Linked DNA regions of Homo sapiens. The protein of the gene in region 2 purifies or fractionates together with the protein of the main gene of each other region. This does not show direct contact. Each region holds a gene or a part of one and is shown on either strand. Other genes may lie near its edges. The genes, in order: GLOD4, GPI, MT1X, HPRT1, RIDA, ALDH6A1 and FDX1.

The links.
Region 1: the proteins of GPI (region 2) and GLOD4 fractionate together in Homo sapiens (co-fractionation; one large-scale study listed by BioGRID). This does not show direct contact.
Region 3: the proteins of GPI (region 2) and MT1X fractionate together in Homo sapiens (co-fractionation; one large-scale study listed by BioGRID). This does not show direct contact.
Region 4: the proteins of GPI (region 2) and HPRT1 purify together in Homo sapiens (affinity purification with mass spectrometry, with the first as the bait; one large-scale study listed by BioGRID). This does not show direct contact.
Region 5: the proteins of GPI (region 2) and RIDA fractionate together in Homo sapiens (co-fractionation; one large-scale study listed by BioGRID). This does not show direct contact.
Region 6: the proteins of GPI (region 2) and ALDH6A1 fractionate together in Homo sapiens (co-fractionation; one large-scale study listed by BioGRID). This does not show direct contact.
Region 7: the proteins of GPI (region 2) and FDX1 fractionate together in Homo sapiens (co-fractionation; one large-scale study listed by BioGRID). This does not show direct contact.

The regions. Positions count from the first base shown.
Region 1 is NC_000017.11:764,705-769,233, forward strand, and holds part of GLOD4 (glyoxalase domain-containing protein 4), read right to left. Parts: intron 1-4,529.
Region 2 is NC_000019.10:34,367,729-34,372,257, reverse strand, and holds part of GPI (glucose-6-phosphate isomerase), read right to left. Parts: intron 3,676-4,529; coding exon 3,556-3,675; intron 1-3,555. UniProt on the Homo sapiens protein: In the cytoplasm, catalyzes the conversion of glucose-6-phosphate to fructose-6-phosphate, the second step in glycolysis, and the reverse reaction during gluconeogenesis.
Region 3 is NC_000016.10:56,681,099-56,684,696, reverse strand, and holds MT1X (metallothionein-1X), read right to left. Parts: upstream 2,228-3,598; 5' UTR 2,157-2,227; coding exon 2,129-2,156; intron 1,533-2,128; coding exon 1,467-1,532; intron 740-1,466; coding exon 648-739; 3' UTR 501-647; downstream 1-500. UniProt on the Homo sapiens protein: Metallothioneins have a high content of cysteine residues that bind various heavy metals; these proteins are transcriptionally regulated by both heavy metals and glucocorticoids. May be involved in FAM168A anti-apoptotic signaling.
Region 4 is NC_000023.11:134,469,725-134,474,253, reverse strand, and holds part of HPRT1 (hypoxanthine-guanine phosphoribosyltransferase), read right to left. Parts: intron 896-4,529; coding exon 789-895; intron 1-788. UniProt on the Homo sapiens protein: Converts guanine to guanosine monophosphate, and hypoxanthine to inosine monophosphate. Transfers the 5-phosphoribosyl group from 5-phosphoribosylpyrophosphate onto the purine.
Region 5 is NC_000008.11:98,113,848-98,119,107, reverse strand, and holds the start of RIDA (2-iminobutanoate/2-iminopropanoate deaminase), read left to right. Parts: upstream 1-1,936; 5' UTR 1,937-2,011; coding exon 2,012-2,076; intron 2,077-5,260. UniProt on the Homo sapiens protein: Catalyzes the hydrolytic deamination of enamine/imine intermediates that form during the course of normal metabolism. May facilitate the release of ammonia from these potentially toxic reactive metabolites, reducing their impact on cellular components.
Region 6 is NC_000014.9:74,060,454-74,064,453, forward strand, and holds part of ALDH6A1 (methylmalonate-semialdehyde/malonate-semialdehyde dehydrogenase [acylating], mitochondrial isoform 1 precursor), read right to left. Parts: intron 294-4,000; coding exon 189-293; 3' UTR 1-188. UniProt on the Homo sapiens protein: Malonate and methylmalonate semialdehyde dehydrogenase involved in the catabolism of valine, thymine, and compounds catabolized by way of beta-alanine, including uracil and cytidine.
Region 7 is NC_000011.10:110,463,166-110,465,384, reverse strand, and holds the end of FDX1 (adrenodoxin, mitochondrial precursor), read right to left. Parts: 3' UTR 501-2,219; downstream 1-500.

The DNA.
Region 1 (4,529 bases), on a different chromosome or scaffold from region 2:
AATCTCAAAACCATGTTGAGTAGGCCGGGCGCGGTGGCTCACACCTGTAATCCCAGCCCTTTGGGAGGCCAAGGTGGGTGGATCACAAGGTCAGGAGATCGAGACCATCCTGGCTAACACGGTGAAACCCGTCTCTACTAAAAATACAAAAAATTAGCCGGGCGAGGTGGCAGGTGCCTGTAGTCCCAGCTACTCGGTAGGCTGAGGCAGGAGAATGGCGTGAACCCGGGAGGCGGAGCTTGCAGTGAGCAGAGATTGTACCACTGCACTCCAGCCTGGGTGACAGAGCGAGACTCCGTCTCAAAAAAAAACAAAAAACAAAAAACAAAAAAAGCCATGGTGAGTAAAAGCAGCCAGGCACAAAAGGAAAGAAAATACTGAATGACTCCATTTGTATGAAGTCCAAGAACGAACTCACCTACAGTGACAGAAGTCAGAATAGCAGCTGATCTGGGAGATGAAGGTGCCAACTCACTGGAGATGGGCATGAGGGAACTTCCTGGGAAAATGGTCTGTATTCTGAGTAGTGGTTGTATGAGTAAACACAACCGTCAAAACACATTTAAATTCTACCTAAATTATGCCTCATCAACAACAACCACCTGTCTGAGCTGAGGAAGGAGTTAAAAACTGGAAGTGAGGAGGCTGGAGCCAGGATGATGGTTACGTTCAGGGCAGAGGTAAGGAGAGGTCGCAGGTAAGCTCTCATCAGAGTGGAGGAAGAATGCAGAATGGGAAAAACAGCAAAGTAGGGCTATGGGTATAAAAACACTTTGGGATGAGACACAGAAAGAGGTGCCCGTGTCTGAGGAGAAACTGTCAGGAAGATGAAAATGGTAGGATGGCCAGGCGCAGTGGCTCACGCCTATAATCCCAGCCCTTTGGGAGGCCGAGGAGGGTGGATCACCTGAGGTCAGGAGTTCAAGAGACAGGGTTTCACCGTGTTAGCCAGGATGGTCTCGATCTCCTGACCTTGTGATCCGCCCGCCTCGGCCTCCCAAAGGGCTGGGGTTACAGGTGTGAGCCACCGCACCCGGCCTACTCAACCAGCCTGACCAACATGGTGAAACCCCATCTCTACTAAAAATACAAAAATTAGCCAGGTGTGGTGGTGCGTGCCTGTAATCCCAGCTACCAGCTACTCAGGAGGCTGAGGCAAGAGAACTGCTTGAACCTGGGAGGCAGAGGTTGCAGTGACCTGAGATCGCGCCACTGCACTCCAGCCTGGGCAAGAGAGTGAGACTCCCAACTCAAAAAAAAGAAAAATGGCAGGATCGCTAACAGCAGAGGAGAAGAGAGCTCAGGGAGCAGGAGTTCATCAATGGTTCACATCTATAATCCCAGCACTTTGGGAGGCCAAGATGGATCGAATGATTGAGCCCAGGAAGTTTGAAACCAGCCTGGGCAACATGGTGAAACCCCATCTCTAGAAAAAATACAAAAATTAGCCAGGCATGGTGGCGCACGCCTATGGTTCCAGCTACTAGGGAGGCTGAGGTGGGAGGATCACTGGAACATAGGAGGCGGAGGTTGCAGTGAGCTGAGATCATGCCACTGCACTCCAGCCTCGGTGACAGAGAGAGACCCCGTCTTAAAAAAAAAAAAATGGGCCCAGGCGTGGTGGCTCACGCCTGTAATCCCAGCACTTTGGGAGGCCAAGGCAGACGGATCGCCTGAAGTTAGGAGTTCAAGACCATCCTGGCCAACATGGTGAAGCCCCGTCTCTACTAAAAATACAAAAATTAGCCAGGCGTGGTGGCACGTGCCTGTAATCCCAGCTACTTGGGAGGCTGAGGCAGGAGAATCGCTTGATCCCGGGAGGTGGAGGTTGCAGTGAGCCAAGATTATGCCACTGCACTCCAGCCTAGTTGACAGAGCAAGAATCCGTCTCAAAAAATAAATAAAATAAAATGGGCCAGGCACAGTGGCTCACACCTGTAATCCCAGCACTTTAGGAGGATGAGGTGGGTAGATCACTTGAGGCTAGGAGTTTGAGACCAGCCTGGCCAACCTGGCAAAACCCTGTCTCTACTAAAAATACAAAAATTAGCCAGCATGGTGGCAAGTGCCTGTAGTTCCAGCTCCTTGGGAGGCCGAGGCAGAAGAATCGCTTGACCCTGGGAGGCGAAGGTTGCAGTGAGGCAAGATTGCACCATTGCACTCCACCCTGGGCGACAGAGCTAGACTCCATCTCAAAAAATTTAATTCAGTAATTAATTTAATTAAATTAAGAGCGAGGAGGAAGAGTCTGGCAAATTTGTCAGCTGAGAGGATGACAGATTCTACTTTCCTTCAGGATAAAATGTATAAAGACTGTATTTTCTATACATTGCCTGCTTTAACGTTAATTGTGCATCTACTATTATGTCAGTAATTTGCCAAGCTCTATAAACCATAACAATCTTATGAGATAGATCCTCTTATTTTCTGAAATTTTTGGATAAGAAGACTAAAGTTCAAAGAATTTAAGTCAACTGTTTAAGGTCAGTCACAGAGTTACGTGACAGAACCAAGAAAGACCAATTTGTTCCTTTAATCATTCAACAAAGTATTTGCAGAACGTCTAGTACATGCCAGGTATGTGCTAGGAGCTAGGATCCAACAACTACTTTGAATGCTTCTGAATTACTGAGTTTGATGAGAATCTAAAAGTAGTTGCTATATTTGGCAAGAAACAAAAGCACTTCACTGAGTAACAAGAGCCAGTGCAAAACAGACTGAAGTGAAAATGGGAGGCGAGAAAGAGAAACAGTGCACACTCAGATTTTTAGAAGAAGAAATCTGGAGAGGACGTAAGAGGGAGAAACAGCGCGCACTCAGATTTTTAGAGAAGAAATCTGGAGAGGACGTAAGAGAGAGAAACAGCGCACACTCAGATTTTTAGAAGAAGAAATCTAGAGAGGACGTGAGAGAGAGAAACAGCACGCACTCAGATTTTTAGAAGAAGAAATCTGGAGAGGACGTGAGAGAGAGAAACAGCGCGCATTCAGATTTTTAGAAGAAGAAATCTGGAGAGGACGTAAGAGAGGGAAACAGCGCGCACTCAGATTTTTAGAAGAAATCTGGAGAGGATGTGAGAGAGAGAAACAGCGCGCACTCAGATTTTTAGAAGAAATCTGGAGAGTATGTGAGAGAGAAACAGCGCGCACTCAGATTTTTAGAAGAAGAAATCTGGAGAGGACGTAAGAGAGAGAAACAGCGCGCACTCAGATTTTTAGAAAAAATCTGGAGAGGACGTAAGAGAGAGAAACAGCGCGCACTCAGATTTTTAGAAGAAATCTGGAGAGGACGTGAGAGAGAGAAACAGCGCGCACTCAGATTTTTAGAAGAAGAAATCTGGAGAGGACGTGAGAGAGAGAAACAGCGCGCACTCAGATTTTTAGAAGAAGAAATCTGGAGAGGATGTGTGAGAGAGAAACAGCGTGCACTCAGATTTTTAGAAGAAATCTGGAGAGGACGTGAGAGAGAGAAACGGCGCACACTCAGATTTTTAGAAGAAGAAATCTGGAGAGGATGTGTGAGAGAGAAACAGCGCGCACTCAGATTTTTAGAAGAAATCTGGAGAGGATGTGAGAGAGAGAAACAGGGCGCACTCAGATTTTTAGAAGAAGAAATCTGAAGAGGACGTGAGAGAGAGAAACAGCGCGCACTCAGATTTTTAGAAGAAGAAATCTGGAGAGGACGTAAGAGAGAGAAACAGCGCGCGCTCAGATTTTTAGAAGAAATCTGGAGAGGACATAAGAGGGAGAAACAGCGCGCACTCAGATTTTTAGAAGAAATCTGGAGAGGACGTGAGAGAGAGAAACAGCGCGCACTCAGATTTTTAGAAGAAATCTGGAGAGGACGTGAGAGAGAGAAACAGCGCGCACTCAGATTTTTAGAAGAAGAAGTCTGGAGAGGACGTGAGAGAGAGAAACAGCGCGCACTCAGATTTTTAGAAGAAGAAATCTGGAGAGGACGTGAGAGGGAGAAACAGCGCGCACTCAGATTTTTAGAGGAAGAAATCTGGAGAGGACGTGAGAGAGAGAAACAGCGCGCACTCAGATTTTTAGAAGAAATCTGGAGAGGATGTGAGAGAGAGAAACAGCGCGCACTCAGATTTTTAGAAGAAGAAATCTGGAGAGGACGTGAGAGAGAGAAACAGCGCGCACTCAGATTTTTAGAAGAAATCTGGAGAGGATGTGAGAGAGAGAAACAGCGCGCACTCAGATTTTTAGAAGAAGAAATCTGGAGAGGATGTGAGAGAGAGAAACAGTGCGCACTCAGATTTTTAGAAGGAGAAATCTGGAGAGGAGATATGGGGTCAGTAAAAGGTTTTTAAAGGATGGGAGCTTTCAGCGCCTGTTTGCACGCTGGCGAGAATAACTCACTGGAAAGAAGAGACTGATGCTGCAGAATGGAGAAGAGATGATCAAAGGAGCTGCAGAGCTGAGGGGATCAGATGGAGGCATCTCCCTGGGGAGAGCTGAGGGGAACGGATGGAGGCATCTCCATGGGGAGAGCTGAGGGGGTCAGATGGAGGCATCTCC
Region 2 (4,529 bases):
CAAAAGAGGTTAGAAAAAGCAAGTCTTGGCTGGGTGTGGTGGCTCATGCCTGTAATCCCAGGACTCTGGGAGGCCAAGGTGGGTGGATCACCTGAGGTCAGGAGTTCGAGACCAGCCTGACCAACATGGTGAAACCTCATCTCTACTAAAAATACAAAAATTAGCTGGGTGTGGTGGCGGATGCCTGTAATCCCAGCTACTCAGGAGGCTGAGGCAGGAGAATTGCTTGAACCTGGGAGGCGGAGGTTGCAGTGAGCCGAGAACTCGCCATTGCACTCCAGCCTGGGCAACAGAGTAAGACTCTGTCTCAAAAAAAAAAAAGCAAGTCTCCTTTCCCGACTGTCAAAGGTTTGTTATAATGAAGCATCCCAGAGGAAAAATGTGTCTTTTTTTTTTTCTTTTTGAGACAAAGTCTCACTCTGTTGCCCAAGCTGGAGTGCAGTGGCGTGATCTTGGCTCACTGCAACCTCCACCTCTGGGGTTCAAGTGATTCTCCTGCCTCAGCCTCCCGAGTAGCTGGGACTACAGGCATGCACCACCATGCCAGGCTAACTTTTTTGTATTTTTTTTTAGTAGAGATGGGGTTTCATTATGTTGGCCAGGCTTGTCTTGAACTCCTGACCTCGTGATCCACCCACCTCGGCCTCCCAAGGTGCTGGGATTACAGGTGTGAGCCACTGCACCAAGCCAAATGTGTCTATCTTTATTACAATTACACCCAGCCTTCATTTGACCAAATGAGTCTTTACCATACCCACCAATTCTGCAACTTCCTTTTTCAACTTCCCAGTCCATCCTGAACAGCATGGCAGATCAATCCAACTATAGCTCCCTAATCCCTATTGGTGCCCAGGATGACAGTATATGAATATGTGCTGACTCTACTTTGTAAGTCCCCTGACAAATGAGTACAGCTTGGTTTCAGGTTTTGCCACTACAATCAAGGTCACAGTGAACGTCTTCACCCAATCTTGGCAAACTTTGGAGAGCACAGCCATGGGGAATGTTCCTCACCAGGGGATTACTGCCATTCAGCAACTTTTTTTGAACTATAAATACCTTATCAGCCTGAGTCAGGTACTCCAGTGGCCAGCTTTAAGGGAAGGCTTTCCTGGAAACAGCACCCCAGACGGTGCAGTGCCATCCTCGCCATGTGGCATGGCTGAGCACACCCAGACTGATCACACAGCACTAGGCTTTTAATGCACTTCAGCTCTGCCACTCACAGCAGATGGCTGGAAAGGCCCCGCCACACACCCAAAGACCATCACATGGACTGATCACCCTAAGTGACATTCAGGAAATCCAGATTCCCATCAGGACCCCACAACTTCCTTGCCCTGGAGGCGTCTCACTCTGTCACCTGAGCTGGAGGACAGTGGCACAATCTCAGCTCAGTACAGACTCAACCTCCCGGGCTCAAGCAATCCTCCCACCCCAGCCTCCCAAGTAGCTGGGATACACCACCACACCTAGCTGATTTATTTATTTTTTCCAGAGATGGGTTGGTTTTTTTGTTGGTTTTTTTTTTTTGAGACAGAGCCTCACTCTGTCACCCAGGCTGGAGTGCAGTAGCGTGATCTTGGCTCACTGCAACCTCTGCCTCCCGGGTTCAAGAGATTCTCCTGCCTCAGCCTCCCCAGTAGCTGATATTACAGGTGCTCGCCACCATGCCCGCCCAGGTAATTTTTTTGTATTTTTAGTACAGACGGCGTTTCACCATGTTGATCAGGCTGATCTCAAACTCCCGACCTCACATGATCCACCTGCCTCAGCCTCCCAGAGTGCTGGGATTACAGGCGTGAGCCACTGCACCCAGCCCATTTTCAGGTCTGAAAGTGGCTCTTGGCCAAAGTAACTGGACTCTGACCAGCCACACATGGAGGCCACTGCTCCTAGGACAAGCAGCAAATGATCACAGCTGACAAGAGTTTGGACGATCACCCTCGTAGCATGCACAGCCCACACAGGCACACCGGCATCACCCTCGTTCTCCAGACGTGAGGATGTCTGCCAACCCACCCCTGCAGAATCACCGCTAGGGTAGACACTGAGGCAAGTGCTTGATGTGGGGAAACTTAGCTGGTCTCTGAGGCAACCCCTACCACCCTACACACAAGGAAAAGAAGGCATGTTACATGCACTGTCACTGACACACGGACACTGCTTACATACTTCCAGGTGGAAATAAGCTTCAGAGGAGCAGGGAGAAAACCAACCTGTGTGCATGTGCACATGTGTACGTGTTTCAAAGAGGAGATGACAGATGTGTATGTGCACAGGAACTTTCTGGAAGACTTCACAGGAAAACTTTTCTATTTTTTAAATTTATTTAGAGACACGATCTTGCTGTCGCCCAGGCTGCAGTGCAGTGGTGTCACCATGGCTCACTGCAGCCTCAACTTCCCAGGCTCAAGCCATCCTCCCACCTCAGCCTCCTGAATAGTTGGGAATAGAGGTATGAGCTGCTGCGCCTGGCTACAGGAAACTTTACAAAGGCTGCTTCTGGAGGGTTAGCTGGGAATGGGGATGAGGAAATTTTTTTTTTTTTTTGACAGAGTCTCCCTCTGTCGCCCAGGCTGGAGTGCAGTGGCGCAATCGCAGCTCACTGCAACCTCTGCCGCACGGGTTCAAGCGATTCTCCTGCCTCAGTCTCCCAAGTAGCTGGGATTGCAGGCGTATGTCACCAAAACTGGCTAATTTTTGTATTTTTAGTGGAGATGGGGTTTCACCATGATGGCCAGGCTGGTCTCGAACTCCTTACCTCAAGTGATCCACCCACCCCGGCCTCTCAAAGTTCAGGAATCACAGGCATGAGCCATCGCGCCCAGCCAGGGTTGAGGAAATTTTACAATGTTTTATCTGTTTCTAGACTGGGTGATAAGGGCGTATGACAAAAGAGATTAGAAAAAGCTCCTTCCGGCCAGGCGCAGTGGCTCATGCCTGTAATCCCAGGTGAGGCAGGCAGATCACCTGAGGTCAGGGGTTTGAGACCAGCCTGGCCAACATGGTGAAATCCCGTCTCTACTAAAAATACAAAAATTAGCTGAGCAGGGTGGCGCATAATTGTAATTCCAGCTACTCGGGAGGCTGAGGTAGGAGAATAGCTTGAATCCAGGAGGCGGAAGTTGCAGTGAGCTGAGATAGCACGACTGCAGTCCACTCTGGGCGAGAGAGTGAGACTCCATCTCAAAAAAAAAAAAAGAAAAAAGAAAAAGCTCCTTCCTTTCCTGACTGTCCTGTCTCTCAGGGGCCCCACTTTTCATTTGAAGCCTCTGTGGTTTGTCACCATGAGTCCATAGGTGTCTACAATTCAGGAAAGAAACTGGCCCCACTTCTGCCAGCAGCAGATTCCTTCAGAGCAGAGCCAGGAGAAATTCAGGCCTCAGCAGAGACTCCAGGGTCAGCGATCACACAGGCAACCCCTCCCTTAAGCTGCAGTGAGAACCTGAGTCCTGCCTACAAGAAGAGGGAAGAGCTGCCCCTTAGGGCTCCCAGATTCCCAAATAACTCACACACACGGCCAAGGGTGAGTCCGGCCCAGTAGCCACTTACCTGGCAGAAAGACTTCATCTTGTCCAGAACCTTGTTGACCTCTGGCATCACATCCTTGCCGTCTACCAGGATGGGTGTGTTTGACCGGTTCCGCAGAGCCACGTGCAGCACGGCTCGACCCTGGGGATTACGGTCAGGATATAAAGACTGCCCCCCCCAACCCCAGGCAGCCATGCTCCCAGCTGGGCATGGTGCCATAGCTCGGCCCTCTATCCACTAGACAGGCAGGCCCTGAGGTCTCTGTTAGCACCATAACCTTGTTCCAAGAACCCACTGTATGCTTAGAGGAGTAGGAGCTCCCCAAGGACTTATGTGCTGCAGACAGTCAGGAGGAGAGGAGGGGACCCATATATGCCTAGGACAGGCCCCGAAGGCCTGCCAGAGATGCTCAGGGCATGAACAGTGAGAGAAAAGAGGAACAGTGAGCAAAGGCAGAGAATGGCAACAATACATGTCAGAAACAAGCAATAAATGCTTTCAGAGGCCGGGCGCCATGGCTCACGCCTGTAATCCCGGAACTCTGGGAGGCCATGGCAGGTGGATAACTTGAGGTCATGAATTCGAGACCAGCCTGGCCAACATGGTGACATCCTGTCTCTACTAAAAATACAAAAATCAGCCAGGTGGGGGTGGCACACACCTGTAGTTCCAGCTACTCAGGAATCTGAGGCAGAGAATCGCCTGAACCCATTAGACAGAGGTTGCAGTGAGCCAAGATCGCACCACTGCACTCCAGCCTGGGCGACAGAGCAAGACTCCATCTCAAAATAAATAAATAAATAAACGCTTTCCGAAGATGAGTGCTCATGAAGCCTGAAGTAACCTCATCCTCCCAATGTGTGTCCATGGTGTTTGCTGGCACGTTTTAGGCAGTGTCCTCAGCTCCTTGGATTTGCAGCAAGGCATGCAACTCAAGCTTCCCTCACCAAGCAGCCCGATAACTACCAACTGCCAGGAACCAAACCAGACTTGAA
Region 3 (3,598 bases), on a different chromosome or scaffold from region 2:
TCCCCACTTCCAGACCTTTGCTGGAGCTGTGCCCTCTGCAGGAATGCAGCTCTCAGATCCCAGTGGAAAGAGTTCTTCATTTGGGCTCACCCCAAGTGCATTCAGTCACAGTACTTTCTCCTTTATAAGATTCCTTATTCTATAATTCTCTCTCCCCCCAGCAGTCCATAAGCTCCCTGTTCCCCTCACCACTGAGGACCCCATGCCTGTGTATGCAGTAGGTGCACCATAGGTGGCTGGTGAGTATAGGCTGTGTCACAGCTACACAAAAAGGGCAGCTACTACCAGTTAACCGTTGCTAGAGGGTGGTAGAATAAACCCCCTAGTTTGCCATAGTTCACAAAGGAGAGCCAAGGCCAGGCAGGATTGCAGGAACCTTGCACCCAGACCCCCACTGCCATGGTCCCCTCTCTGAAATGCCCCACAATCTGGGTTTCCTACAATCCAACTGGAACCAAGTGCCATATACCCAGTGACAAATGAGGTGCCCAGAGCCAGAATAGTCTAGATGAATTTATTGCCATTCACATATTTCATAGAAAAAAAGATGTAGCAAACGGGTCAGGGTTGTACAAAAAAAAAAAAAAAAAAAATCCAGGTTTATATAGGTTGCTCTATTTACATCTGAGAGCACAGCTGTCCTGGCATCAGGCACAGCAGCTGCACTTGTCTGACGTCCCTTTGCAGATGCAGCCCTGGGCACACTTGGCACAGCCCACAGGGCAGCAGGAGCAGCAGCCTGGAGAAGAAGGGGAGAGTGAGAGGTCAGAGCAGACTCAATCAGGCACCTCCCTGCCCCAACAGAGGCCTGGCTCGAGCCCTGCCTCCAGCCCCAGAGGACCATCATTTCAGGATGGCATGGCTTTGTCAGAAGAGAACTGGTAGATCTTTGGGATGAGGGTTTTATATGAAAAAGCTGCCCAGCCCCACCTGAGTCTGGGACAGGACAGAAGACTGGACAGGTAGTGATTGGGGGTACAGGAACAAAAGGAGGCCAGTTCCCCAAAACCTACCCTTAAATGAGGAAAGTCTTCACAGCCGGACAGGGGGCAAATCCCTGACACAGCAGTTCTGGGGAAGGCTAGGGAAGCTCTGGGCTACCCCTGCAGGAAAGGACTGGATCATTAGGTTTGAAATCACCCGGGGTCTTCCAGATCCTGGGCCTTAAGTGCTTCAGGACCCAGAAGGGTGAAGAAGGCTGCATCAGGAGGCAGGAGACCTAGGTTCACATTCCAGCTTTGTTCCCAACACTATCTGGTAACCTCTCTGGGCCTCAGTTTCTAGTTTGGTAATAAGAGGCTGGGACTCACCCATTTTTAAGGCAATTTGAGGTCTGATTCTGAATCAGGTGTTGAAGGAGGGGTTTGGGGAAGCTGGTCATTGGCCTGCCCCTGCCTGCAGAGCTCTGGGTTCCCTGCTCTAACTTGGCCCATCCCCCAGATTCGCAGGGAAGGCCCTGCACTCACTCTTCTTGCAGGAGGTGCATTTGCACTCTTTGCATTTGCAGGAGCCGGCACAGGCACAGGAGCCAACTGCAAGGAAGAGAAAAAGGCAGTGAGCGTGGAGTGAGATGCAGAAGGTACAGCAGCTGGTCAATAACGCTTCAGTGACCCCTCCTCTGTGCTGAAGGACCAGCCCCCAGAGCTCCTTTCCCACTCAGGGGAGAGGAAGAGAAGCCCCATCTCCTCTCCCTTCATTTTGGGAAGGGCAAGTGTTCTGTTGCTTTTACCCCACAAGCAAGGTCCCAGGCTCCAGACACAGCCCAGGAAGGCTAAGACAGGAGGCCAGAACCTTCTGTCCTGAACTCCGAAGAGGCAATGGCCCCCCACTTCCCATCCACCCTGACTGCTCAGAGCCTGGTCAGAGCATTGGGGCTCAGCCAGCAGCCCCCTGACCAACTGGGTGACATGGAGCAGGACAGCCTTGGGCCTCAGTACCCTCAACTCTAACTTAGAGGCACAGGGAGGCGAGAAGTGGTCTCAGGGACGTGATCGGGAAGAAAGCACCTAACGAAATAAAGGAGCCCCTTCAGCTCAGAACTTTAAATGCGACTTCTTCAAACCCAGGAAGAGTCTGTACTGTGGCTGGGAAACGGGCATCCCAAGGCGCGGAGCTAGGTGTCCCTTACCAGGCGAGCAGGAGCAGTTGGGGTCCATTTCGAGGCAAGGAGAAGCAGGAGTTCCCGATCAAGAGGAAAACACGCAGCGGGACAGATGAAAAGCGTGGTGGAGCCCAGAAGCCGGCGGCTCTCTTTATAGTCCGGGAAGAGGGCCGGGCGCAGAGGCCCCGCCTCGTCCTTGCACCCGCCCCTGCTGAGTCTGCACCGCCCGCGATCCTGGGCCGGGTGCAGCAACCCGTGAGCCCAGCGCCGGGCGCACCGCGGGGCCTGCCCCTTTGGCTCCACCTCGTTGAGAACCTGGCAGTACGTGGCGTCCCTGGCGTCTTGCCTGCCCAATTTCCCTGACATTGCCTGCCTCTCCCTCTCCTAGGCGTGCCGGGAAACTCGGAATCCCGGCGGTCTACACACCCCCAGCCCCCGCTCCACTGTGTGTAGCTTTGCATTTCCCAGAGTCCCTGGATCACGTCCCTGGATCGGCGGGAGCGGTGAGCATAGCGAGGGAGCAGTGTGCAAATGAGAGGCAGAGGATGTGACACTCGGATTTCCTGCATTGCCGGTCCCTGTCCCCGTCCCCACCTCGGTCTGTTGGCCACGTTTCTCTTATGTCTAGGGACAGAACAGACACAGGGCTCTGCCCCCGTCCTTGCATTCTCCACTCTTGAGAGGCTGAATGGGCACATTTGCCCAGGTCCTCCTTTGCATAAAACTCTCCAGGTCTCCCCATAGCCTAGCCGGGCACCCCACCACAGGATGACAGTTTGGAAAATGTGGAATGCTCCCAGAAAAGGGATCATTTTAGGTGATATGCGGATTCCGGATTAAATTAAAATGCAAGAAACAGGGTTATTTTTCCTTCCATATTCCTATTACTCTACATAACATTAATCCGTGTTAGGCCCTTTTTAGTCACTTTGCATCGTTGAACCCTCACAGCAACCCTAAAGGGACATACTTCTATTCATGAACCCATATTCTAATCTGAACAACAACAATAAAAGGAGTTCAAGCCACCAGCCCAGGGTCAGAGGGCTGCGAAGTGACACTGCTGGGTCTGAATCCGGTCAGCGTCCCAAAGCAATGATGAAGCTTCCCTTTGGCCTAGATATATTCATCTCTTTACTGCTTGAAATCTTTAAACAAAACCAAGCATCAAGGTCAGTCCTGGAAGCAAAACAGAGATGCAGAGGGGATATGAATAAGCATAATTTGATGGCAACCTTCTATGTCTGGAAGTTAAACTGATTCTTTTTTCAGTGGTGCTAATGAGTTTGCTTTTCATATAAAAATATCTAAGGAAATAGGAATCATTTGAAAGAAAAACGTTAAGTCACATATTGGTGCAGGTGGTAGCAGAACTGGCAGGTATCCTTCCGTTTCTGTGATGGGGACAGGGACTATCTTGCTCATGGCTTTATATTTCTGGAGTGAATCCCTATTTTGTGGGCAGAGTGCAGGACACTGTCAGGACCACAGGTCAAT
Region 4 (4,529 bases), on a different chromosome or scaffold from region 2:
ATGTTTCTTCTAGTACAGTCGGTAAGAACAAAATAGTGTCTATCAATAGTGGACTGGTTAAATCAGTTATGGTATCTCCATAAGACAGAATGCTATGCAACCTTTAAAATATATTAGATAGCTCTAGACACACTAATATTAAAAGTGTCCAATAACATTTAAAACTATACTCATACGTTAAAATATAAATGTATATATGTACTTTTGCATATAGTATACATGCATAGCCAGTGCTTGAGAAGAAATGTGTACAGAAGGCTGAAAGGAGAGAACTTTAGTCTTCTTGTTTATGGCCTCCATAGTTAGAATATTTTATAACACAAATATTTTGATATTATAATTTTAAAATAAAAACACAGAATAGCCAGACATACAATGCAAGCATTCAATACCAGGTAAGGTTTTTCACTGTAATTGACTTAACAGAAAATTTTCAAGCTAGATGTGCATAATAATAAAAATCTGACCTTGCCTTCATGTGATTCAGCCCCAGTCCATTACCCTGTTTAGGACTGAGAAATGCAAGACTCTGGCTAGAGTTCCTTCTTCCATCTCCCTTCAATGTTTACTTTGTTCTGGTCCCTACAGAGTCCCACTATACCACAACTGATACTAAGTAATTAGTAAGGCCCTCCTCTTTTATTTTTAATAAAGAAGATTTTAGAAAGCATCAGTTATTTAATAAGTTGGCCTAGTTTATGTTCAAATAGCAAGTACTCAGAACAGCTGCTGATGTTTGAAATTAACACAAGAAAAAGTAAAAAACCTCATTTTAAGATCTTACTTACCTGTCCATAATTAGTCCATGAGGAATAAACACCCTTTCCAAATCCTCAGCATAATGATTAGGTATGCAAAATAAATCAAGGTCATAACCTGGTTCATCATCACTAATCTGAAAAAGAAATATAGCTGTTTCAATGAGAGCATTACAGGATACAAACATTTGATTGGATTAAGATGTTAAAAAATAACCTTAGTCTATCAGAGAAATTTAGGTGTAAGATGATATTAGTAACTGTTAACTTTGTAGGTATGATAATGAATTATGTAAGAAAACAACAGGCCGGGCGGGTTGGTTCACACGTGTAATCCCAGCACTTTGGGAGGCTGAGGCAGGCAGACTGCCTGAGCTCAGGAGTTCGAGACCAGCCTGGGCAACACGGTGAAATCCCGTCTCTACTAAAAATACAAAAAAATTAGCCGGGTGTGGTGACACATGCCTGTAGTCCCAGCTACTTGGGAGGCTGAGGCAGGAGAATCACTTGAACCTGGGAGGTGAAGGTTGCAGTGAGCCAAGAATGCGCCACTTCACTCCAGCCTGGGAAACAGAGCAAGACTCTGTCTCAAAAAAAACAAAACAAACAAACAAAAAAACAGGCTGGGCGCGGTGGCTCACGCCTGTAATCCCAGCACTTTGGGAGGCCGAGGCGGGTGGATCACCTGAGGTCAGGAGTTCCAGACCAGCCTTGTCAACATGGTGAAACCTCCCCCCGCCGTCTCTACTAAAAATACAAAAATTAGCCAGGCGTGGTGGCAGGAGCCTGTAATCCCAGCTACTTGGGAGGCTGAGGCAGGAGAATCGCTTGTACCCAGAAGGCAGAGGTTGCACTGAGCTGAGATGGCACCATTGCACTCCAGCCTGGGGGACAAGAGCGAGATTTCGTCTTTAAAAAACAAAAAACAAAACAAAAAACCATGTAACTATATGTCTTAGTCATCTTAGTCAAGAATGTAGAAGTAAAGTGATAAGATATGGAATTTCCTTTAGGTCACAAAGAGAAAAAGAAAAATTTTAAAGAGCTAAGACAAACGCAGCAAAATCTTTATATTTAATAATATTCTAAACATGGGTGATGAACATACGGGTATTCATTATACTATTCTCTCCACTTTTGAGTATGTTTGAAAATTTAGTAAAACAAGTTTTAACACACTGTAGTCTAACAAGATAAAATATCACACTGAACAGGAAAAACTGGCATGGTGTGGTGGCTCACACTTGTAATCCCAGTGCTTTGGGAGGCTGAGACAGGAGAGTTGCTTGAGGCCAGGAGTTCAAGACCGACATGGGGAATGTAGCAAGACCCCGTCCCTACAAAAAACTTTGTAAAAATTTGCCAGGTATGGTGGTGCATACCTGTAGTCCCAGCTACTCGGGAGGCGGAGGCAGAAGGAATCACTTGAGCCCAGGAGTTTGAGGCTGCAGTGAGCTACGATCATACCACAGCACTCCAGCGTGGACAACAGAGTAAGACCCTATCTCAAAAACAAAACAAAACAAAACAAACAAAAAAAACCACAAGAAAAACTGCTGGCTGATGCAGCGGCTCATGCCTGTAATCCCAGTATTTTGGGAGGCCCAGGTGGGCGTATCACCTGAGGTCAGGAGTTAGAGACCAGCCTGGCCAACATGGTGAAACCCCATCTCTACTAAAAATACAAAATTAGCCAGGCATGTGGCACGCGCCTGTAGTCCCAGTTACTGGGGAGGCTGAAGCAGGAGGATCACCTGAGCCCGGGAGGTGGAGGTTGCAGTGAGCCGAGATCACACCACTGCACTCCAGCCTGGGTGACACAGCAATACCCTACCTCAAAATAAAAAAGAAAAAGAAAAGAAAAGTTGCTGTCCCCGCTACCCCAATCCCAAATCCAAACAGCCTCTCTCATCTCACAGTAAGGGGGAAAAATCACCCAAAAAAGCTAAGTGATCTTTTGAAAACCCAAACTCTTAGAAGTCTAAGATTATTATAGTCAACTCATGAAGTGTCATCATAAAAGATACTCTAATATTATTTAAGTAGAACCACATATTGGTTGTCTTGGTATGTCTAGCCCCTGGCATACAAAATATTTAATAACACTGATATGGTACCTGTGATGTGAAAATGTACTATGAGTACAGCTTTATAAATACTATATATGTACCTATATACAGAAAAAAATACAACAAAATCATAAAAGCACTTATCTTTGAAAGAGGAGTTACAGCAATTTTATTTAGTTCTTTATTGCTTTGCTATATATTCTAAATTTTTTTCAATGAATATATATCACTTTTAAAAAAATTCAATGGTCTTTCTTATAAATTATCTTTGGCAGCATGCGTTTTTATATATACATATAAAATGTATGGGAAATTTTTAAAGGATACATTAAATTAAAGCAAAATATACAAACAAAAAATCAGAATACAAAAAGATAAAAAGATTGGGAAGGGAGGGAGGGAGTAAGGAGGAAGGGTGGGTGGGTATAGAGAAATATACCAAATAATGGTAAGAAGTGGGGTCTTGACACTTTCTACACTTTTTTTAAATAAAAAAAATTTTTTTCTCTCTCTTTTTTTTTTTTAGAGACGAAGTCTCGCTATGTTGCCCAGGCTGGTCTTGAACTCCTGGGATCAAGAGATCCTCCTGCCTCAGCCTCCCAAGGTGCTTGGATTACAGGTGTGAGCCACCACGCCTGGTCACTTTCTACACTTTAATATATATATTTTTTCATTTTCAATGTCATTTTTATTAGTTAATTTATAATACCCATTCACCATTATATTCAAAGTCTATTTGAAGAAATAAACCAGAAAGAATGAAATACTCTAGCTCACATGCTATTCAATACTAAATTACCTTTCAAATCACATTCAAGAAGCTGATGATTTAAGCTTTGGCGGTTTCCAATAAATATTGGTCAAACCATAATTAAATCTCAATATATCAGTTAGTACCTATTGAGCATCTCCTTTTACAACCTAAGCATTGTATTAGGTGCTTAAATACAAGCAGCTTGACTTTTAATACATTTAAAAATACATATTTAAGACTTAAAATCTTATTTATGGAATTCAGTTATATTTTGAGGTTTCCAGTGCTGAGAAATTTGAGGTTTGTGCTGTCTTTCAGTCCCCAAAGCTCAGTTCTGAGTTCTCAGACTTTGGTGGAACTTCATGTATTGTCAGGTTGGCCCGTAATACCTGTGGGACAACTTCAGCCCCTGTGCACATGGCCAGGAGGCTGGTTGCAAACATTTTCAGGTAGGTGGACCAGGACATGCCCCTGGTCATGGCCAGGTGGAGGCATAGTGCTATACAGCAGGCAGAAGTCAATATTGATTTGTTTTTAAAGAAACATGTACTACTTTCATAAGCAGAAAAAATTTCTATTCTTGGGGGAAAAGATTATGCCAGATCCTCTAGGATTAAATGCTGATGCATCTGCTAAACCTTCACATATCAGAACATATTTACTATAGAAAGAATGAAAATGGGACATTTGTGTGTCACCTATGTGAACATTCCAAAAATATTTTACAACAACTAAGTATTTTATAAATTTTATGAACTGAAATTTAGTTCAAGTTCTAGGAAAATACAAACCTTGCTAGATATTATAAAAATGATACAATATATATTCATTTCAGGCTCATCAGAATATATCTGTTATCACTTGACAAGAATGAAAATGCACCATTTTGTAGTGCTTTAAAATCAGGAAGATCCAGAGTACTAAAAATGACTTCTTCCTTGAAGCTTA
Region 5 (5,260 bases), on a different chromosome or scaffold from region 2:
GTATAATTCCAAAGTAGAATAAGAATTTTGTCATCTTAGGCAGCATTGAGAACTTGATGTGGCAGGCACTATTCTACATGACTTATTCATTTAATTCTCACAACTCTGTGGTCACTAGTATTATTCTCATCTTATAAATGAAGAAATCGAAGCACAGAGATTTTATATACCAGTCCAAGGCTACTAAGCTTGTGATTGTGCTGAGATTCAAACCAGGCAGTCTGACTCTATCCACTATTCTTTTTTTTTTTTCCACCCCTTCCCTCTCCAATCCACTATTCTTGAAACACATAACAATTAGAAAATAGGATCTCATATAATAAAATACTAAATTATGCGGTACAGCACAATAGGAAACAGGACAAGGGAAAGAAAAAAAATGAGGCCGGGCATAATGGTTACACCTGTAATCCCTGCACTTTGGGAGGCTGAGGTGGGAGAATTGCTTGAGCCCAAGAGTTGGAGACCAGCCTGGCCAATATGAAGAAGCCCCGTCTCCACAGAAAATACAAAAATTAGCCGGGCGTGCTGGTGTGCACTTGTAATCCCAACTACTTGAGATGCTCAGGCTGGAGGATTGCTTCAGCCCAGGAGGTCAAGGTTTCAGTGAGCCAAGATCATGCCACTGTACTCCAGCCAGGGTGACAGAGTGAGATCCTGTCTTGAAAGAAAGAAAACAAAGAAAAAGAAAAGGAAAGGAAGGAAAGAAGAAAAAGAAAAAAATGTGAATTGGTAGGAAAAGTCAAAGAGAAAATAGAATTTCAGTTAGCTGGAATTTGCACAGATAAGGAAGAAAGAGTATTCAGGAATCCACAGTGTGAATACAGGAGGACTCTAGTGGGAAAAGGGAGTAGATGACAATGAAACTTGAATAGGCAAGGGGAGGCCAGACTGAAAGGTCTTTTATTCCAGGCCCCAAACCAATGAAAAAGATCAGAAGGTTCCTGAGCCGGAAGTAGGAAGGCCAAAACCTTAGCAGTATGTAGGACAAAATGAGAGGGAATAAAGCAGATTTTCTTGTATTATCTTTAGGAAGCAGGGAAGGCAGAGATTTTATTATTATTTTTTTTAACTGTTGCATTCCTCCTAGCATCTAGCAGAGTGCCTTACACAAAGTAGGGACTCATATATCTATGAGTGCCCGCATAAATGAAGAAACGAAGCGTACTTACAATGCAAATATTAACAGGATAAGAAATATTTAGCCAAGTACCACCCCTTCTGACACAGCAGAATACTTACAAGGGATCTGGGCCATTCCAGATCACCATCTTTCTTTCTGAAATGATATCCCAATCACTAGGGCTCTGTTCAGACAGTGACCTTGTAAAGCCCGAGGAGCACCCTAGAGAAGGGAACACAGGAGGAGCAGGAAAGGGAACACGGGAGGACCAACGCCCAGATCTCAGCGTGGTCGCCAGAATGACCCATATTAGTCATTTGGGGTTGCAGAAGAGGGGATGCAAGCCCATTCCCAGGACGGCCTCCACCCGGCGGGGCAATGAAGGGAAATGACTGACGTAGGGGGCTCCAGCGCAGGGGCCGAAGGAGATGCGACACCAGGGAGAGGGGCCCCGGGCACAGGCAGCAAGGAAAGAGGTCAGCGGAGTCTGAGAGAGAAACGATGAAGAGGGGAGACGGGCGCCGGGAGGGGGGCCGCCGCATACAGTTCCCCCGACACTCGCATCCTGGAAGGCACCAGCCCCTCACGACCAACCTGCCAGACGCTGTGAGGAATCCCCGGGTCAGAATGACAAGCCTCCGCGACAGTACCCACCGAGCCAAAGCTCCTGGAGAGCGCGCTGGAGAGCGCATGCGCCAGACCGGGCGCTTCCTCCACGTGGCCTGGAGCGTCGCCGAAACTACAGTTCCCAGAATGCCGCACGAGCCCGCCCCCAGCGGGAGCTGTGGGGCAGAGGCGCTGCTGTGGTTGGTCAGTCCAGTAAGAAGCCAGCAGGGCTGGTGCTGGGGCTTCTTCTCCTGAAGGGGCTGCAAGAGGGAAGGCTTAGCCATGTCGTCCTTGATCAGAAGGGTGATCAGCACCGCGAAAGCCCCAGGGGCCATTGGACCCTACAGGTAACGTGGCTGGTGGAAGCTGTGTCGGACCCAGGGCGTGCGGGTTCGGGGATTCGGGGTTGGGGCCACTCCGGGCCGGAGCCCCAGCTAACACGCAAGGAAATTGAGCCTGGAAAGTAAGCAACGCGCCCGAAGACCCACAGAGAGTTGGGAGCCACGATGGGACCAGGAACCTGCACTCCATGGGACTTTGCTCGTTCTGGGGCTGCCTCGCTGCGGAGCACAGCCTGCCAGAAAGCTCTCCCCAGTTAGAAGCCTTCAGACCCTGTGTTTTGTTTTGGGGGAGGGGGTCGTTTTTGTTTTCTTGGTAACAGCTTTATTGAGATATAATTCACGTACCGTAAGATTCACCCCCTTTAACATGTACAATTCAGTGGTTTTGACCATACTCACAGAGTTGTGCAGCCATCACCACTTTCTTCAGAACATTTTCATCACCCCAAAAATAAATCCCATCCCCATTAGCATTCACTCCCCATTCTCCTCTCCCCCGGCCCCTGACAATCTACTTGCATCTTCATGGATTTGCTTGTTGTGGACATTTCCTATAAATTGAATCATAAAACATGCAGTCCTTTATGACCAACTTCTTTCATTAGCTTCATACTTGGTCTGCCTCTCTCCCAACTGAAAAGAGCCCCATCAACAGCTCCCTCCTTTAAACCTACTGCTGTGAGAAAAGGCACTGAGATGTGGCAGAACAGGAATTATTATAGAAAACTTGGAAATAAATAAAATGCAGTAGAAGTGAGAGGGCAAGTGGGGTAGGGAGTAAAGGAGAAAAAAGACAAATTGATTTTAACTTGGGGTGGAAGAGGAAAAAGAAGATTTAGGAAGGTTCCTTGTGAGAGGTAGTCCTTTGGTTTTGAAGGTTGGTTTTGTCATTTATAGTAGTGTTGTAAAGTTTGATTTTTAAATTAATTTATTAAGGATTTCAACAGGAAGTCATTGAGTGAAGGGCATGGAGGTAGAAGTCAGGTAGAGGGAATGGCTTGAGTGAGGGCATGGAGGTAGAAGAATGCATGGTATAAAGATTTTGGGGAGAAAGTTTTCATAATTCAAGTGCTACTTCTGTCTTTTTTGTTTGTTTGTTTGCCAAATCTGTATATCACTTATAATTTACTTAACCTATTTCTTTGAGATGGCTCACTTCATTTTATTTAACAAGTTAATTGAAAAAGGAAACTTTACAACAGTACACTAAATAGAAAACAATTCAATAGAAAGTAATAGTAAAAAATAAACTCAATTAAAAAAAGGTATTATTAAATTTTAGCTAGATATTGCAGTTGGCTCAAAACCTGAGGCCTGCTCTCTCTTTGTTAAGAGTGATGTTTCTTTAGCCGGGTACTGTGGTTCACGCCTGTAATCCCAGCACTGTGGGAGGCCGAGGTAAGAGGATTGCTTGAGGTCAGGAGTTCAAGACCAGCCTGGGCAACATAGTGAGACCCCCATCTCTATTTAAAAAAAAAAAAAAGTTTAATTAAAAACTTTCAAGTGATGTTTTAATTTGTTTTCTAAAGATGATTTTTTTTCTCCTTAATGTAATCAAACGGGGTAGAGTCATCATTGCTAACATTTACTGATGCTTACTCAGCAGCATTGGGCACTATCCCTTTTTTTTTTTTTTTTTTTTTTTTTTTGGAGGCAGAGTCTCACTCTGTTGCCCAGGCTAGAGTGCAGTGGTGCAATCTCAGCTCACTGCAACCTCCACCCCACAGATTCAAGTGATTCTCATGTCTCAGCCTCCCAAGTAGCTGGGATTACAGGCAGGTGCCACCACACCCGGCTAATTTTTGTATTTTTAGTAGAGACAGGGTTTCACTGTGTTGGTCAGGCTGGTATTGAACTCCTGACCTAAAGCGATCCACCTACCTCGGCTTCCCAAAGTACTCGGATTACAGGTGTCAGCCACCATGCCTGGCCAGCACCAGGCACTGTTCTAAGTTATTTATGTGCATGGTTATATTATAGTCCCTATTTTTCAGATGAAGAAACTGATGTGTGCAAAATTAAATAATTTGCCAAAAGTTACACCACTAAAAAGTGATGTAACAAAATTTGAATTTAGGAAATGGGTACTAGAGCCTAGTCTTAATCATTTACTTTGTTGTCCCTGGTGTAGATTGAAAAAAAAAATTGGAAAAGGAATCATTTTCTTACTATGTAAGACTGTGTATAAGTCTTACTGTGTATGACTGACTCCTTTGAGAAATACTGATTAAGAGTTGGACTTTGGATTTGAATTTTTGTTTTGCCTCTTTTTAATTATATGATCTTGCAGAGTGACTTAACCTCTCTTAGTTTGCTTCTTTGTCTTCTCAATGGGCATAAATAATACCATTTGATAAGATTATTGTGGGAATTAAATAAAAGTGACCAACAAAAATTAGATTTTGGCCAGGCACAGTGGTTCACACCTGTAATCCCAGCACTTTGGGAGGCCGAGGCAGGTGGATCACAAGCTCAGGAGTTCAAGACCAGCCTGGCCAAGATGGTGAAACCCCGTCTCTACTAAAAATACCAAAAAAAAAAAAAAATTAGCTGGGTATAGTGGCGTATGCCTGTAATCTCAGCTACTCGGGAGGCTGAGGCAGTGAATTGCTTGAACCTGGAAGGCAGAGGTCGCGGTGAGCCAAGATCGCACCACTGCACTCCAGCCTGGGCTACAGAGCGAGACTCTGTCTCAAAAAAAAAAAAAAAAGATTTTAGCAGGGTACAGGTTGTGGTGGTTTCCAATACTAAATGGAAGAATATAAACTTTATTTTGTATATAATAAGGAACAATTAAATGTGGTTTTTTTCTTGTGGTTGTTGTGGTTGTGTGTTTGTATGTGTGTATATTGAGACAGTGTTTCGCTGTGTCACCCAGGCTGGAGCCGGGATCACAGCTTATTGTCGCCTCAACCTCCCGGGCTCAAGCCATCCTCCCACCTCAGCTTCCCAAGTAGCTGGGGCTACAGGCTCAGGCCACCATGCCCAGATAATTTTTGTATTTTTTATAGAGCTGGGGTTTTACCATGTTGCCCAGGCTAAATGTTTTTAAGCAGGGTGGAACATGATCAGATCTTTTAAAAAGAATTCTGATAGTAATTCTGATAGAAATTTGGAGGTAAAGAAAGTGAGAATAGTTAGGGGATATTATAAGTAAAAATTTGTGATTTTTTTTCTCCTTCTGCCCTAA
Region 6 (4,000 bases), on a different chromosome or scaffold from region 2:
ATCTGGTTTCATTGTTACACTAGGCAGTTCCCTATAGAAACTTTGCGGGGGTTAATAGTCCTGAGGAAGATTTTAGTTACAATGTATTCCAATCCCATCGATCTGATCTGAGCAAAGCTGACAAATGAAGCTGGTCAAAAATAAAGGGAGATTACTCAGGATGGAGTCAGTCTTAAACAAACTTGTTTCTAACGGCCCATGGTAGGCATGACAACAGCAGGTGAGGAAAGAGTAGCATCTTCTTCTTTCCACTGAGAAGTAATGGTCTTTAACTGAGTGTAGAATTGGATGCCCTAAGGAAAACAGAAAAAAAGTTAGCATATATTTCTGGGGTTTCATGATTCTTCTTTTAATTAGCTTTTGAAGGAGGTATTATAAAGTGCTACTCACTTTCCTAATTGAGAAATGCAATCAGAATCCAATATATATTGTTCCTAAGATAATTGATCTAAAACATTTAACATAATACCTGGCAGATAGTAAACAATCAAACCTTAGCCATCATTATTATGCTGAAACTAGTATTTCTTTCTTTTTTGTTTGAGATGGAGTCTTGCTCTGTCACTTAGGCTGGAGTGCAGTGGCATGATCTCAGCTCACTGCAACCTCTGCCTCCCGGGTTCAAGCAGCTCTCCTGCCTCAGCCTCTCGAGTAGCTGGGATTACAGGCACCTGCTACCACGCCTGGCTAATTTTTGTATTTTTAGTGGAGATGGGGTTTCACCATGTTGGCCAGGCTGGTCTCGAACTCCCGGCCTCAAGTGATCCGCCTTCCTCGGCCTCTCAAAGTGCTGGAATTACAAGTGTGAGCCACCGTGCCCCCAGCTATTATATAGTAGGCCATTTATTTATTTATTTATTTATTTTGAGACAGAGTCTTGCTCTGTTGCCCAGGCTGGAGTGCAGTGGTGTGATCTTGGCTCACTGCAACCTCTGCCTCCCAGGTTCATGTGATTCTCCTGCCTCAGCCTTCTGAATAGCTGGGATTACAAGTGTGTGCCACCATGCCCAGCTATTTTTGTATTTTTAGTAGAGAAGGGCTAATTTCAGATTAGCCCATGTTGGCTAGCACCATGTTGGCCAAGCTGGTCTTGAACCCCTGACCTCAGGTGATCCGCCAGTCTTGGTCTCCCAAAGTTCTGGGATCACAGGCATGAGCCACTGTACCCAGCGGCCATTTCTGATAATTATCAGAGATCATGAGCTCTATATTGAAGTGGCAAACCCAAAGTATCTTAGAAATCTAAAGTAAAATGTCTGACATTATACAAATTCACTTCTCAATTACCTATAACATGTGAGCCCAAAAATTCAGCATATTTAACTCTCTCTATATATAGATATAGTTTATAAGAGTAGGCTTGAGCAAAAGAGAATACATTGTGCAGATCTAACACTTATATAATTACTAGCAAGCTAGAATGACATTTTACCAGATTACCAGAGTAATTTATAATAATTAAACTGGGGGGTGCAGCCAGGAGCGGTGGCTCACACTTGTAATATCAGCACTTTGGGAGGCTGAGGTAGGCGGATCACTTGAGGCCATGAGCTCAAGACCAGCCTGGCCCAACATGGCGAAACCTCGTCTCTACTGGGAAAAAAAAAAAAAAAAAAAAAAAAAAAAAGCTGGGCGTGGTGGAGCCTGAGGCAGAATTGCTTGAACCTGGGAGGTGGAGGTTGCAAGTGAGCCGAGAATGCACCATTGCACTCCAGCCTGGGCAACAGAGCAAAACTCCCATCTCAAAAAAATAAATAAATGGAGAGGGTGGGCAGGGAACAATTTTTAAACAATAGTTGTACTCTGTTTTGCTTAAAAGAAATGTTACTAGTATCAAATTAGTCATTTTTACAAAAGCTGTGACTAGGCCGGGTGCGGTGACTCACTCCTGTAATCCCAGCACTTTGGGAGGCCGAGGCAGGCAGATCACCTGAGGTAAGGAGGTCGAGACCAGCCTGGCCAACATGGCGAAACCCCGTCTCTACTACAAATACAAAAATTGGCGGGTGTGGTGGCACGTGCCTGTAATCCCAGCTACTCGGGAGGCATAGATACGAGAATTGCTTGAACCCTGGAGGCTGAGGTTGCAGTGAGCCAAGATCATGCCACTATACTCCAGCCTGGGTGACAGAGAAAGATTCCATCAAAAAAACCCCAAAACAAAAAACCAAAAGCTGTGACTAATATACAAACTATATAATCAACCTCCAAATACCAAAGTGTTGACTTCTTAACCATTTGGCCACACTGTCATAATGCTATGCAATCCCATTGTTAATTTTTTAATAACCCAAACATAAATAAAATAAAAAAGCCCCACATCCCTCGCCCTGTGGCAGCACATAGCTGGCACAGAAAAAAAAAATCAACCTATAAAAGGGGAGACTTGTATAACAAAACATGTAATTTATTAATGAAGGTTTCAAAATGGCTCTAGTCCTATGACTAGAAAGAACTTCCCCTAGCCTATTTGTTCAACAAATGTTTGGGCAGCCTGCTCTGTTCCAGGTACTGCAGATAAGTAGATAACAACTACAGTCTGATGAGGGCTTCTTTAAATGGCTTAAAGAGCCCTACATGACTCAACCCCTGCCTGCCTCTCTAACTTCATTTCTTCCTTTTCTTCTCATTTGCTCACTGTGCCCCAGCCCATTTCCGCTGTCTGAATGTGCCATGCTTCTTCCTGCCTCGGGACATATGCACCTGTTGGCCGATGTGGCAATAGTAATAATTCTTCTTTTTTTTTTTTTTGAGATGGAGTCTTGCTCTGTTGCCCAGGCTGGAGTCCAGTGGTGCAATCTCGGCTCACTGCAACTTCCGCCTCCCAGATTCAAAGGATTCTTCTGCCTCAGCCTCCCGAGTAGCTGGGATTATAGGCACCTGCCACCACACCTGGCTAATTGTTTTATTTTTAGTAGAGGGGGTTTTGCCATGTTGGCCAGATTGGTCTCAAACTCCTGACTTCAGGTGATCTGCCTGCCTCAGCCTCCCAAAGTGCTGGGATTACAGGCGTAAGCCACTGCACCTGGCCAATAGTGATAATTCAGTCCTTACAATGTTATGAAATACATAGGTACTATTGTTATTCATTTTATACGTGAATAAATTTAAGGCATAAAGAAGGTATCCTGGTTGGCTGTGGTGGCTCATGCCTGTAATCCCAGCACTTTAGGAGGCTGAGGCAGGCGGATCACCTGAGGTCAGGAATTCGAGACCAGCCTGGCCAAAATGGTGAAACCCTATCTCCACTAAAAATACAAAAATTAGCCAAGTGTGGTGGTGGGCATCTGTAATCCCAGCTACTTGGGAGGCTGAGGCAGGAGAATTGCTTGAACCTGGGAGGCGGAGGTTGCAGTGAGCCAAGATTGTGCCACCGCACCCCAGCCTGTGCGACAGAGTGAGACTCTGTCTCAAAAAAAAAAAAAAAATTAATGGTATCCCCCAAAGTCAGACAGCTAATAACTGGCTTAGCTGGGATTTGAACACAGGCAATTTGGTTCCAGATCTGCTTTACTTTTCTTGTTCAGTGCTGTATTCATAGTGCCTAAAATAATGTCTGCTACAGACCGGGCAGAGTGGCTCACACCTGTAATCCCAGTGCTTTGGGAGGCTGAGGTGGGTGGATCACAAGGTCAGGAGTTCAAGACCAGCCTGGCCAACATGGTGAAACCCTGTCTCTACTAAAAAACAAAAAATTATCCAGGCATGGTGGCAGGCACCTGTAGTCCCAGCTATTCGGGAGGCTGAGGCAGGAGAAGTGCTTGAACCCAGGAGGCGGAGGTTGCAGTGAGCTAAGACCATGCCACAGCACTCCAGCCTGGGCAACAGAGCGAGACTGTGTCTCAAAAAAAAAAAAAATAATAATAATAATAGTAATAATAATGTCTGCTACAAAGAACGTGCTCAACAACATTTTTTGTAAATGAATAACTATTACAGAAAAAATACGTGCAATGGGAACACACTGGGGTCACACTACCCAGCACTGAGGGAGGGGTGG
Region 7 (2,219 bases), on a different chromosome or scaffold from region 2:
AGAATAGTTGGGAGTGATACTGTGTCACTTCCACAACTAGCTCATAAAGAGGATCCAGTTCTGCCTGGCATGCATGCTCTTCTGAGGATGCCTGCCCTTGGAACCCAGGCGCCAGGTTGTGAGGAAGTCCAGGCCACACAGAGAAGCCACGTGTGGGTGTTCCAGCCAGTATCTTCTCCTAGACCCCCCAGCTGATGCCAACAGCAGACACCAGTCATATGAAGAATATGCCTGAAGATGATTCCAGAACCTGGCCTTTGAGTCATCTAGCTTAAGACCTAATACATTGTGGAGCAGAGACAAGCTATCCCTGCTCCGTACTCTAAATTCTTGACTCACAGGAACTGTCTGAAATAATACAAGATTCTTGTTTTAAGCTACTAAGTTTTGGGGTAATTTGTTTTGCAGCAATAGATAAACCAACACATTTACCTACAACACACATATATCAAATACAGAAGGATTTTTTCAAACTGAAAAATCACCTTTATACAAACCAATTATAGATTATATCCTCCATTTAATAATTTTAGAAGGTTTTATAAAATAACACAATTAAACTTCATTTGAACTTTTCTAATTTGAAATATAAGACAATTTATACTCTAAATTTTAGAGTGCTTTGGTTGAATATAATCATTAAAGTAGCTCTGGAAGGAGAGTTTAGGTAATCCACACACAAAGACAAGAATAATGAAGCTAATTAAGAGAATAAATTGGCTTTGAAGTACTTTAAAATTATAGCACTGCTATGGTTTGAATGTCCCCTCCAAAACTCATCTTGAAATTAAATTGCCAGTGTAATGGCATTGAAAGGTGGGTCCTTTAAGAGGTGATCTCCTTTAAGAGCAGAGACCTCATGAATGGATTAATGCCGTTATCTCAGGTGTGGGTTAGTTATGTCAGAAGTGGGCTCCTGATAAAAGGATAATCATTTTGCCCTCTTGCTCTCACTCGCATTCTCTTGCCCTTCCACCATGTAATGATGCAGCAAGAAAGCTGTCACCAGATGCCAAGCAGATGCTGGTACCATGCTCTTGGACCTCCCAGCCTCCAGAACCATGATCCAAATAAATCTCTTTTCTTTATAAATTACCCAGTCTGTGTTATTCTATTATAGCAACAGAAAATTAAGACAAGCACTCTCCACATAGAAAGCATTCAATAGTTATGGCCAAGCACGGTGGCTCACATCTGTAATCCCAGCATTTTGGGAGGCTGAGGTGGGTGGATCACTCGAGCTCAAAAGTTCAAGACCAGCCTGGGCAACGTGGTAAAACCCTGTCCCTAGAAAAAATACAAAAATTAGCCAGGCGTGGTGGTCCGTGCCTGTAGTACCAGCTACCTGGGAGGCTGAGGCACGAGAATCCCTTGAAACTGGGAGGCAGAAGTTGCAGTGAGCCGAGATCATACTATTGTACTCTGGCCTGAGTGACAGAGTAAGACCCTGTCCCCCGCTCCCCCCACCAAAAAAAAAAAAAAAAAACTACTCAATAGTTATTAAGCATCAAATGATACTTCAAGTTCTTCCTAATCACTTTTTACATATGAATTAGTTTAAAATCTTATTTAGCAGAACTAGTCAGTTTAGTTCAAGCAAATTATCTGCACATACATACATATTTTATATTTTCCTAATAAAAGGTGAATTCCCTGATGGCATTCCTTGTCTTGTTCACCTCTGTGTCCCCAATGGGCATAACACAATGCTGTATGTCAAGCATTGTACTAGACAAATATTTATATAAATGATCAAGCTGCAATAATACACATGAAGCTAACTCAATTGTCTTATAACCTCTTTCTACTAATTTGTTCTGCTCTTCCTCACAATTAGTCCAAGTTAGTTGATGTTTTATTATATTTCCAAAGACCATACTGTGTACCCCTTTGTTAACTTTTATGAATTTATTTATAGTAAAGATAAGAGTACGAATGTCTTCCACACATACGTGGTAATCTGTGGTGCTTGCCACTCCCTCACTCCTGGGACTGACACACTGCAGCCCACGCTGCTCACCCTGCAGCCCCATCCTTGCGTGAGAGAATGGCGCCACCTGGGGCTGTGCAACGTGTCAGCCTGCTCATTCCCTTCTCCAGCTCAGGACAGAGAAACACAATTCATTCATAAGGTTTCCATTCTGTTATAGGCAGAGATTTATAAATCAGCATTATTTTTCAAAGAGTACAAAGTTAAACCATTCTGCTTAGAAAAGAAT